Linked DNA regions of Homo sapiens: region 2 is linked to region 1. Evidence: fine-mapped expression QTL. Tissue or cell type: whole blood. Region 1 holds a variant in brackets; the other region holds the start of a gene. All regions are shown on one strand. Distances are between the middles of the regions.

Region 1 (5,381 bases):
GAAATAAGTGTGCTGTGGGTGCAGCTCACATCCTTGGCTAACCCCTAGCAGCAGCTATCCATATCCACTCACCCCACCACACTTCCCTCCACGCTGCCAGCAGCAGAAGGAGCACCCTACAATGCAGATGCCTCCTTTGTTTGCCAACTTCAGTAGTTTCCCATCAGCTACAAGATCAAGCTCAGGCTCCTCTCACCTGGTCCTACCCTCCCCACCTCTACACTACCCTGTAGCGGCATCCAGTTCCTTGCTGTTCCACAAACTTGTCAGGGCTGTTTGGAGCCTTCAGCCTGTACAAGAGCTGTGCCCATCGCCTGTAATACAACCTTTGACCACTTCAAATAATGACCTTTTTTCTACCTAACAATTACTGAGCATTCAACTCTGTGCTGCGTGTGTGCTGACCCTTCACACACACCACCTCACTAATCCTCACAGTCCTTGAAGGTGGGGACTAGTGTCACACGTGGCCATTGGGAACATCACACAGATCAAAGGCTGGGCTCAAGGTCACATTGCCTAAACACACATTCATGTGACGTGAGAACCTTAACTCTTGCCCTCCCAGTGACACTTCCTTCTCTGGGTTTCCATTCCGCCTTGCAGAGAGCACTCTGACTTACTGTAGCCTTCTGTGTGTGTGTCTCCCCTCTCTACTGTGAGCCCCTCGAGAGCAGGGCCCATGCCTTCCCCATCCCTGTCCCAGAAGCTAACTGGAAACAGTGGAGACATGCAGCAGATTGTTGACTGAAGAAGGTGCTGCGTCCATGGTCATCCCTCATATCCTTTATAAATTTCTTATACATTTCATTCCTTTGTGGGAATTGCATCTTGAAGCTTTGTTTATAGCCATCTGCGTGGGTCCCTTAGGCTATGTGGCTGACTTTAATGCTACAGATATTTTTCCGTTTCTGGCATGTAGCAGTGCTGGGCTTAGCATTGTAGAGATTATAAAAGAGAAGACATGGCCCCTGCCCTCCAATTGCAGAGATGAGACCATATGGAACACAATTAGCCATTAAAGACAATACATTTCAGTATTTGCATGGAGTATTTGATTATATAGCACATGCAAATTCTTTGGAATGACATACAAGGCCCTGCAAGATCTGATTCTAGGCCACTTTCCCAGTTTCATCTGCTGCTCTCCCACGGATCCCCCCACATCCCAGACATACTGAGGTGTGTGCAGTCCTCTGAGCCCACCATGCTTCCAATGTCACCATCTCTTTGTAGGTGCTGTTTCTTCTTCCTAGAATGCCTGTCTTGTTCCTATCTGCCTGGCAACTTCTTACTCATCTTTTAGAACACTGTCTAGTGCCAGTTCTTTCCTTTTTGTTTTTGTTTTTGTTTTCATGGCCTTTGTATGTTTTTCTGTAGTGTGACCCTTATCACATAAGTCAGTTTTGTAAGTCTGCTCTGCCTGTTCATTGTTGAGTTACTTTAGGTCAAGATCCATGTCTCAGTGATGGAAAAATGAATGACAAAATAGAAATTGGATAAATGGGAAGGAAGGAGTGATGATCTAACATGGCTGGGGGTCAGTGGGGAATCACTTTCATTGGCCAGAATAGAGAGCTAAATAAAGTGGCTTAAAGGCATTAGAGGTTCATTTGCATGTGGAAAAAGCCTGGAGGTGGATGGTTGAGTGCTGGTGTGGGTGCCACAATGTCATCAGGAGCCCGGGCTCTGCTGCGCAGCTTGGCCACCTTTAATGCGAAGTTTCCCTCTTCAGGGTAACCTCGTGGCTCAAAATGGTTGCTGGAGCTGCAGCCATCTTATCCATTTCAGGCAAGAAGGACTAGAGAGGTCAGCTGGTACAAAAAAAAAAAATTATGTTCATTCCCTGAAGGCAGTCTCCTTCAAACAGATTTCTCAGGGTCCTTTACCCAGGAGCTTCATCTGCATCTCAGGCCAGGATGTAGTCACATGTTCACCTCTGAGTTTGGAAGAGATGTAAATATACAGCAATAAACATAGGTTATCTCCACATTTAATTTAAAATGACATTGCTTTTTAAAACAGTTTTTAGGTCTGAATACACATTTCTCAAAAAAAGATATAAAATGGCCAATAAGCATATGAAAAGATGCTTAGGGAATTAGTCATTAGGGAAATACAAATCAGAACCACAATGAGACATAATTTCACATCTACCAGGATAGCACTAGAGTCAAAAAGGCATAATAACAAGTGCTGGCAAAGAGAGAAATTAGAATTCTCAAAACGCCACTGGTGGGACTGTGAAATGTTACAGCAGTCTGGCAAGCCCTCACAAAGTTAAACACTTGAGTTACCCCATGACCCAGCAATCCCACTTCTAGGTATACATATGTGAGAGAATGAAAACATACATCCACACAAAAGCTTATGTATGCATATTCATAGCACTATTCATAATAGCCAAAAAATAAAAATAACCAAAATGCCCATTAACAAATGAGTGGATCAACAAATTGTGGTATATCCATACAGTGGAATATTACTCTGTCATTAAAAGGAGTGAAGTACTGATACATGCTATATAACATGGATGAATTTAAAAAACATTACAGCAAGTGAAAGAAGACAGTCACAAAAAAACCCACATAGTTGATGATCCTATTTTTATGAAATGTCCAGAACAGGCAAATCCACAGAGACAGAAACTAGACGAATGGTTGCCTGAGGGTGAGGGGAAACAGGGAGTGACTGATGATGGGTTTTGTGTGGGGGCAATAGAATGTTCTAAAATTTGATAGTAATGGTTATACAACTCTGAATATACTAAAAGCCATTGTACACACGTTAAAAAGGGTGGATTGTATGTGAATTCTATCT[CAAT/C]AAAGCTGTTCAAAAATTCAGTTTTTATCTGTAAGATATATCTTCAAAATTAACCTCAAAAAACAAAGGAACTGGTGGCAGGGGGGATAAGTTTCCCAAACCAGTTAATATTTCAAGACTTATATTAGTTATCTCCTTCTTCTCATTTAAGTCCTGACTTAAAAAAAAATCTGCCCTGCACAGTCAGGATCAGATCCCTCTGGCTGGTTGCCCAGATGACCGGGATTCTGAGTGGTTTCTTTGTCCTGTGGACTTATCATTTCAAAAACAAAGCTCTTTTTCCCAATCTGCAAAGCTGAGGAATGGAGATGCCAGGAGGTCAACAAATAGGCGTAGGAAGCCACTATCTGCAAACCAGCAGGATGCTGGAAGGGTTTGCTCTTTGGGGCTCATGTTCCTTGGAGATTTTGTTATTGATAGATGGACAGAGGCAGGTCAGAGGCCATGAAAAATTAGTGTGGTGTTTGGAAAGGCCTCTGTGCCAGGAGTCTGCAGATGGGTGACTCCTGACCAAGAGCTCTGATTCCCAGCAAAACAAGAAAGATGATAGCCTTCTCACCACTGGGTGGGCACACGAGCTCGTGGCTGTGAGCCTGCCCTGTAAACATGGAAGGTGGGCACCAGGCAGGCCATCCTGGAATGGCGAACTTGGGGTGGCTCCAGAGGGTTTGAAAAGGGAAAGGGAGCATTGTCTAGTGGAAAAGAAGACGTAGGTGTGTTGGCTGGAGTGGTTGTCAGGATAAAAGGTGGTCGAAGAGATGGTTGGACAGCTGCACTCACTCACAAGTGTGGTCAGAAGCCTTGGGCCAGCAGCCCTTCCTGGTAAGTGGGCTGGTTAGGGTTGTTGGAGTTGGGCAACAGGAACAACTCGCTGACTCTGCATCAAGATGCTGGAGATGGCCATCAGCATCTAAGTCTCCCTGGGGTTGACCTTTGCTACGTGCTGTGGATTCTTGAGTCTTTCACGGAGGCTCACACTCTCATAAAGTCCCTTGGGAATTACAAGAAACAAATCATTTTTGTGTAGCATAAGATGTGACTAGTTTTAATTTGATATATTATTAAAGACTGCTATCAGGTTCATTTTGTTCAGAAAAATGAAACTTTCAGGATCTGGTTACAAAACTCTGCCAGTGTATTTACAGGTTTTTCTAGCCATTTTTTTGCTTATTAAATTGTTCTTTATGCTTCCTTTCTTCAACCAGTGGTCTATTTTTGGTATAAGTTAAGAAGGTAAGAATAAAACACAATGTAGAAATATGTCAGGGTAAACATTACTGTAGTATTAAAGTGGAAAAATATTTATTATAGTCCATTGATTTTCAGGCACATTTTCCAACTTTAACATCTCTGAAATTGTAATATGTCTTACAGTCAATGGCAGCTTACATTCATTTTTTTCTTATAAGATGGTGCATCTTTTGATCACTAATGTCTTGGATTTGATGAAATTTGGCAAATTATATTAGTGATTGAGCTTAGTAAATGCATTGTCCTCATTCTTTCCTGTCTGCCCTCAGATGTACACGTTGGATAATTCCATGCCCATCTTGGCATTGCGACCAGGAGCTTCTGCATCCCTTGCTTCCAAAGCGAACCAGTGAAACATCTTTTTATTCTTGCAGGTTCTTAATGATTGACCACAAGCAGATCTTTCACCCTCGGATCTCTAGCTACAAAAGGTGCAATGGGACCTTTCTCTCTTCCCCAGCCCTTCCATTCCTCCAGCCCCCCCAGGGTCCTATACCCAGTTTGTGTGACTGTCCTTGAAGCTTTCCTGGAACCATACTTATCATCAGACCTTTCCCAAAGTGACTCACTAACATTGGTCTCTCTGATGGTGTCTCTGGGTAGGTAAGGGACGGGGGACCTCCCCTTGCCCTACTATGGGGAGAGTGACTAACTCTTTTCTTGTCCTTTCCGGATAGGAACCACTGGCTCAATGACCTGTAAGGGCCGTTTCAGCACATCCATTCTGTCCATCTCCAAGCCTTCACCGTAGGGAAGAACTTTTGCTCTCAGTCACCTCTCAGAGAGCTCTCTTTATAGCTGAAGGTCCCTCTCATGAGTTACATCAAGAGTAACCTAGAATTATATCAGCAATACACAGCCATGGCCCCCAAGCTACTGGCCCGCATCTCCAAACTCCTCATGATCTGCCAGAATGCAGGCATTTCTGTACCAAAAGGCATCAGAAACATCTTTGAGTTCACTTGGGAAGAGCTCATCAGTGACCCTTCAGTGCCTACCCCGTCCGACATCTTGGGCCTGGAGGTCAGCTTTGGAGCCCCCCTGGTGGTGCTCATGGAACCCACCTTTGTGCAGGTCCCCACACTGAAGAAGCCACTACCTCCACCACCACCAGCACCACCACGTCCAGTGCTGCTGGCAACCACTGGGGCAGCCAAGCGCTCCACCCTCTCTCCCACCATGGCCCGTCAGGTGCGCACCCACCAGGAGACCCTGAACAGGTTTCAGCAGCAGTCCATCCACCTGCTGACGGAGCTCCTCAGACTGAAGATGAAGGCCATGGTGGAGTCTATGTCGGGTAAGGCCCA
Region 2 (5,381 bases), 29 kb before region 1:
GTAAAGAACATACTGGGCTGGGCTTCAACTTTTGTACTTGGTAGAGGAAGGCAATTCCAGATAGACCCAGATGCTTGGAACACATAAACAAAGAGGAGAGAGTTTGAGGAAATGGGGGGATATGTGAAAAATCATTTGTATGACAGGGGAGCATTCTGGTCAATGCAAGATTAAGTTATTTTGTGCTTTTGCAGCCTGCAAAATGAGTGAGCCTGGGAATAAAGGGGACTCACTAGCTTGCTCCTGGTCATTTAAGTGGCTTGGGAGGTGGTTACAATCAGCTGGATGCCACTCTAGGGAGAATTTCTGACAAGGGTGAGGGTGCAAACCTGCATCGCTAAGATGGAGATGACAACCAAGGACCCTGACAGGCATCGTGCAGAGGAAGCTAAATTCTCATGGTCTTCAGGGACATTCACGTGCAACTAGAATTACTTTCTTTCTAGCTTTCCAGGATCAGAACACTCACTGGCTTCATTGCCAGGGTCCAGCTAGGCAAAAAAACCAACATTCATAGTTTAGAAGCTGTGTTTCTTCTATATAAATCCTTTCCTCGCTTTCTGAGATGAAGTCAGTCTATACTGGTTCCACTAGTTACAAGTAAATAACACGCCAATAATTAACTCAATGTCTTTGAGTTATTTTTTAACTGAAGGCTCCTTCACTTGCTAGCTGGGAAATGACCCCTGGCATGCCATTTAAGCAACTGAGCCTCATTTTTTTTCCTTTTAAAAAAAATTATTATTAATACCTTTTAATGTTTCACATTTTCTTTCAGAAGATTTGTAACAAAAACACATGGAATTTAGTATGTGTTTCAGTAAAATGGGTAAATACAGAATCTGAACAAGACAAGTCTATAAGGTATAATCCTTCTTGTGGGGACAGAACATTCCACTCCATTAAGAAAAGAGAATCACAACATTATTAGGCCCGATTATCTCATATTGCTTACTGTTCTAATTTCAGAGACTGGCGGACTTGGAGAAATAAACAAATGAAAATAAATAAATAAGACTGAACACAGTCAACTGCCTCAATTCCCCTCTCCTTTTCCCTTTTCCCATTTTCTCCATAAAGACAGATGAGATGAGGATGTGATGAGTCTCATTTTTCTTCTCTCTAATATGGTGGATAATAGGTCCGCTTCTAGGATTCTTGCAAGGATTATATAATATAATCTATGCAAAGAGTCATACACATGCCCCACATATACTAAATGCCACTGTTACAATCATTATGATCACTTTCGTCTTGCTGCTGTAACAAATTGCCACAAGTTTGGTGGCTTAAAACAACACAAACGTATTCTGGTAGAGTTCTGGAAGTCAGAAGTTTGAGATGAGTGTTACAAGACTAAAATCACCGTGTCAGCAATGCTGCATTCCTTCTGGAGACTCTGGAGGAGGGCTCATTTCTTTGCTTTTTCTAGCGGCCTCCTGCATACCTAGGCATGTGGTCCCACTCTCCCTCTTCAAAGCATCTCTGATCTCTGTCTGACTCTGGCCATCCTGTCTACCCCTTATAAGGATGGTTTTGATGATAGGGGACCCACCTGCACAATCCAGGCTAGCTCCCCATCTCAATCGCTTTAATTTCATCATCTCTGCCAATTCTCTTTTGCTATATAAAGGTCACCATATACCCAGATTCTGGGGATTAGAAGGTAGACATCTGGGAGTCGGGGTGAGGGTGATTGGTCTGTCTACCATAATCATTAACATTTTTATCAAGACTAGCTCATTTAACTCATCTAATCCTCACTAAGACCCATTAGGTAAATAAAATTATATCCCCCTTTGGAAACTGAGGCACACGGAAGTTAAGTAACTTGCCCAAGGTCACACAAGCAGTAAGCCGTGAAGAGCGATTCCAACCCAGAAAGTCAGCTTTCGAGTTCACGTGTTCTTTGTTTTTTTTTTTTTTGATCTCGACTCACTGCAACCTCCACCTCCCAGGTTCAAGCGATTCTTCTGCCTCAGCCTCCTGAGTAGCTGGGAATACAGGCGCGCACCACCACGCTCGGCTAATTTTTTTTTTTTCTTGTATTTTCAGCAGAGACGGGGTTTCACCATGTTGGTCAGGCTGGTCTCAAACTCCTGACCTCCTGATCCACCCGCCTCAGCCTCCCAAAGTGCTGGGATTACAGGCGTGAGCCACCGCGCCCGGCCCAGGAGTTCACGTTCTTAAGAGCTGAAATATGTAAAGTGGCCCATAATAAGCACTACATTAATGTTAGCTATTATTCTTGTTATTTCTACTAAGATTAATATAATAATCCTTATCTCGTACGCTCTTTTAAGAACCAACTATTTAACGTGTGAAAAGTGCCAGGCAGCAGGTCCTGGAATTGCAGTTAAGATTCTTCCGGTCCTCCCAATCCACCTTTCCCGAGACGCTCGAGTTCACTTACTTAAGCGTCAGCCTTCCCCAAGATGGCGTTATCTTTGTCGCCAACCCCACATCCGCCCCACCCAATATGGCGTCCATCGCAATCAAAAGCTTTATTCCGCCCTTCTCAAGATGGCGCCCACACCAATCCTTGTTACCTTCCGCCCTCAAGATGACCTTAGCAGTTAGCGTCAACCTCCGCACTCTATGACCTTTCCAAAATGATGGTGAACGTAATACGCACCACACTCTGACCTTCTCAAGATGGCGCTGAGCTGACAAACTCGCGTCGCAAACTCACGCAAACTCAGTGTCGCTGTCGAAGACACTTCCGGTTGCGACGGAGGTAGGCTTACGAGGCCTGTGTCGGGTAGAAAGGGTCCTTCCTGGACCGGGACCCTCTGCCACGACCATGGACCGTAGGAAAAAGCCTTTGGACGTCACGGCCTCCTCGGTGAGTGAGGGTATGAGGTAACTCCACGGGCTCCGGGTTCACCGTGTCTCCATCAGACAAGAATGTCGACCTAGCTTGTTTCTTCACTCGGGGACCCAGAGACCTGACCTCTCCCCTCAAACAGGAACCCCCGAACTGGATTTTCTTCTCCGGCGGGGATCCGGTTCAGTTTTCTTACAGGACCCTGAATTGGGCTACTCTCCTCTGACATGCGCCCGGGCCAGAACCCTCGGACACGGATCTGAACCTGGTGTCCCGTGGGTTAGGAAACTCCGTGCCTCACCTCTGCCCTGCCCACAAGGACCTGCACCTCGTCAGCCTTCTCCCTTACAGTCAGGAGGAACCCTAGCTTCTTTTTGCTATGCAGACATATCCTCTTCCTGGTTTCTCCTCCATCCAGGGACCCACAAAGTCCTCCCAGAACTTTAGAGTGTGACATATTTCGCAGGACCCGAAAGTGTCCAGCGTGCCCTCCCTGGAACTAAACAGTTGTTAATGCAGGCATAGGGAGTTGTGAGGTCTGAAAGGATGTAAGCAGATTTATTACATCAGCTACTCTAGAAAGAAAACTTGTTCTAAGTACACATTTTGTGCCAGCACTTTATATGCACTATCTCATTGAATCCTCCCAATGGCTTTAGGAGGTAGGTGCTATTAATATCTCCGTTTTATGGATGATGAAATTGAGGCCTGGAAAGATGAAGTAGCTTTCCCCAGCTTACAGACAGAAATCTTAGTGATAGCCGGGCGCGGTGACTCACGCCTGTAATCCCAACACTTTGGGAGGCTGAGGCGGGCAGATCACCTGAGGTCGGGAGTTTGAGACCAGTCTGACCAACATGGAGAAACCCCGTCTCTACTAAAAATAAAAAAATTAGCCGGGCGTGGTGGTGCACGCCTGTAATCCCAGCTACTCGGGAAGCTGAGGCAGGAGAATCGCTTGAACCGGGGAGGCGGAGGTTGCGGTGAGCCGAGATCGCGCAATTGCACTCCAACCTGGGCAACAAGAGCGAAACTCCGTCTAAGGGGCGGGGGGCGGGGGGAAGAAATCTTAGTGATAGACCCTTTCTCACTCACTCTACTTGACTCCAAAGCTGCTGCCTTTTCATCATCAGAGCAAATTGCCCAACCTTTGATTTAATCTTGAATTTACTTCAGAGTATTAGGACACAAAGTGAGTAGGAAGGAAAACATATAGGTGTCCCAATATTTGAGTACTAGTTATTATTGGTAACTATTATTGGTTAAAATTGGTACCAGTTATTATTTTGTTTGAAGATCAGGAACCAGAAAGCTATAAATATTAAAGCCAACCTATACTGACAGGTTAGCAGTAATTGTAATAAGAATGCTATTTGAGAATTTACATTTTTTTGAGCATCTCTTAAAGTTAAAGGCAGTTGTAGACTAGGAAGATATGTGGCTGGAAAATTTGGTGTGGTTAAGTAAGCTTAGAAGAAAAAGTAGAAGTTTTTCATTTGTTTTTAAAAATTTCCAGTATTAGGGTCTGCAGTGAAACTGCCCTTTGCATTATTAAATGGTTACCTTTTAAATCGATTTCTTCCAAAACGGAAATTGAACCCAGCCATTTTTATCTTCCTTAACAAATAAAGTGATTTTTTTAAGTATCTGATGATTAAGACAGTGATGAAGTATCTGATTTACAAATGCCCATCCATATAAGCAGCTGTACCTGGACCATTAAAAAGGAAACTGTTGTTATATCCTTTTTTGCAGAGTAGGCAGGGGTAATTAATGTAGCTGAGGGAAAGGTACTAATATTCACCCAACTGCCCCACTCCCTATGCCTTGGCCTTCTTTCCTGTTCTTGAACCGTGTGATTCAGCCAAGCTTACGGTTTTTGAAATGGATTAAGTCAAACGTGGAGCTGTTATAATTCACCCAGTCTATTTTATTTCTAGCTGTTGAAATAATGTGTCTTTAAAGGCTCTGCTCTAAGCTTTCTCTGATCACTCTGCTCAGAAGGAAATGCTCTGTTATCTGAACTTATGTGCTACTTTCTTCCACTCTAGAGTCATTTGTTTTATTTTGTTGGTAGTATAAATTACTTTCCTTGTTACATTGTAGGCTCTTTGAGGCAGAGAGTATGTCTAATTCATGTTTATGTTCTGCTCTTCAGCGTTATTTCTACAGCATTTCACTGTAGAAATAAGTTGTGATGATGAAATGAGTGCAGTGCTAGTCAGAGAGAAGGTGCTTAATAATGCAAGTTTAATCTGAAACTAAAAGATGCAGACTTTATTAATTTATTTTGCTTTATCACTTTCTCCTTGCCTAAGGAAAGCCTCGAGTGTTGAAAGTCAGAGTAAAAATGCATTTGCAGCAGAGGTAGAATGAAACATGACTTAGCTTAATTTGTGTACTGGATTCTACATTTAAACATTTAGTTACTTAAACATTTAGTTTTTTAGCCATATTTGTCCATTTAGCGGAACTTGAAATATTCCTTTGGAAATTATAATAATTTAGCAATCCAGTCACCTGCAGGAATTTAATATTTTTGTTTACTTACTGC

Evidence for each region.
Region 2: it holds the start of CCDC174, and the variant in region 1 is fine-mapped to the expression of CCDC174 in whole blood (TOPMed, PIP above 0.99). The same link has a PIP of 0.9 or more in testis.

The regions. Positions count from the first base shown.
Region 1 is chr3:14,677,827-14,683,207 of GRCh38, forward strand. It overlaps C3orf20 (chromosome 3 open reading frame 20), which reads left to right. Exons shown (of 17, transcript NM_032137.5): 2 at 4,344-4,505; 3 at 4,752-5,371. The coding sequence starts at 4,888. Among named protein-coding and RNA genes, the nearest start is that of C3orf20, 5.4 kb to the left of the region's middle. RefSeq lists a silencer at 2,952-3,152. The variant CAAT/C (reference allele first, on the strand shown) is at 2,821.
Region 2 is chr3:14,649,034-14,654,414 of GRCh38, forward strand. It overlaps CCDC174 (coiled-coil domain containing 174), which reads left to right and starts at 2,729. Exons shown (of 11, transcript NM_016474.5): 1 at 2,729-2,845. The coding sequence starts at 2,804. LOC124909347 (a long non-coding RNA gene) reads right to left here and starts at 3,088. Exons shown (of 2, transcript XR_007095826.1): 1 at 2,636-3,088; 2 at 1-2,193. RefSeq lists enhancers at 2,270-2,928, 2,432-2,831, 2,972-3,041.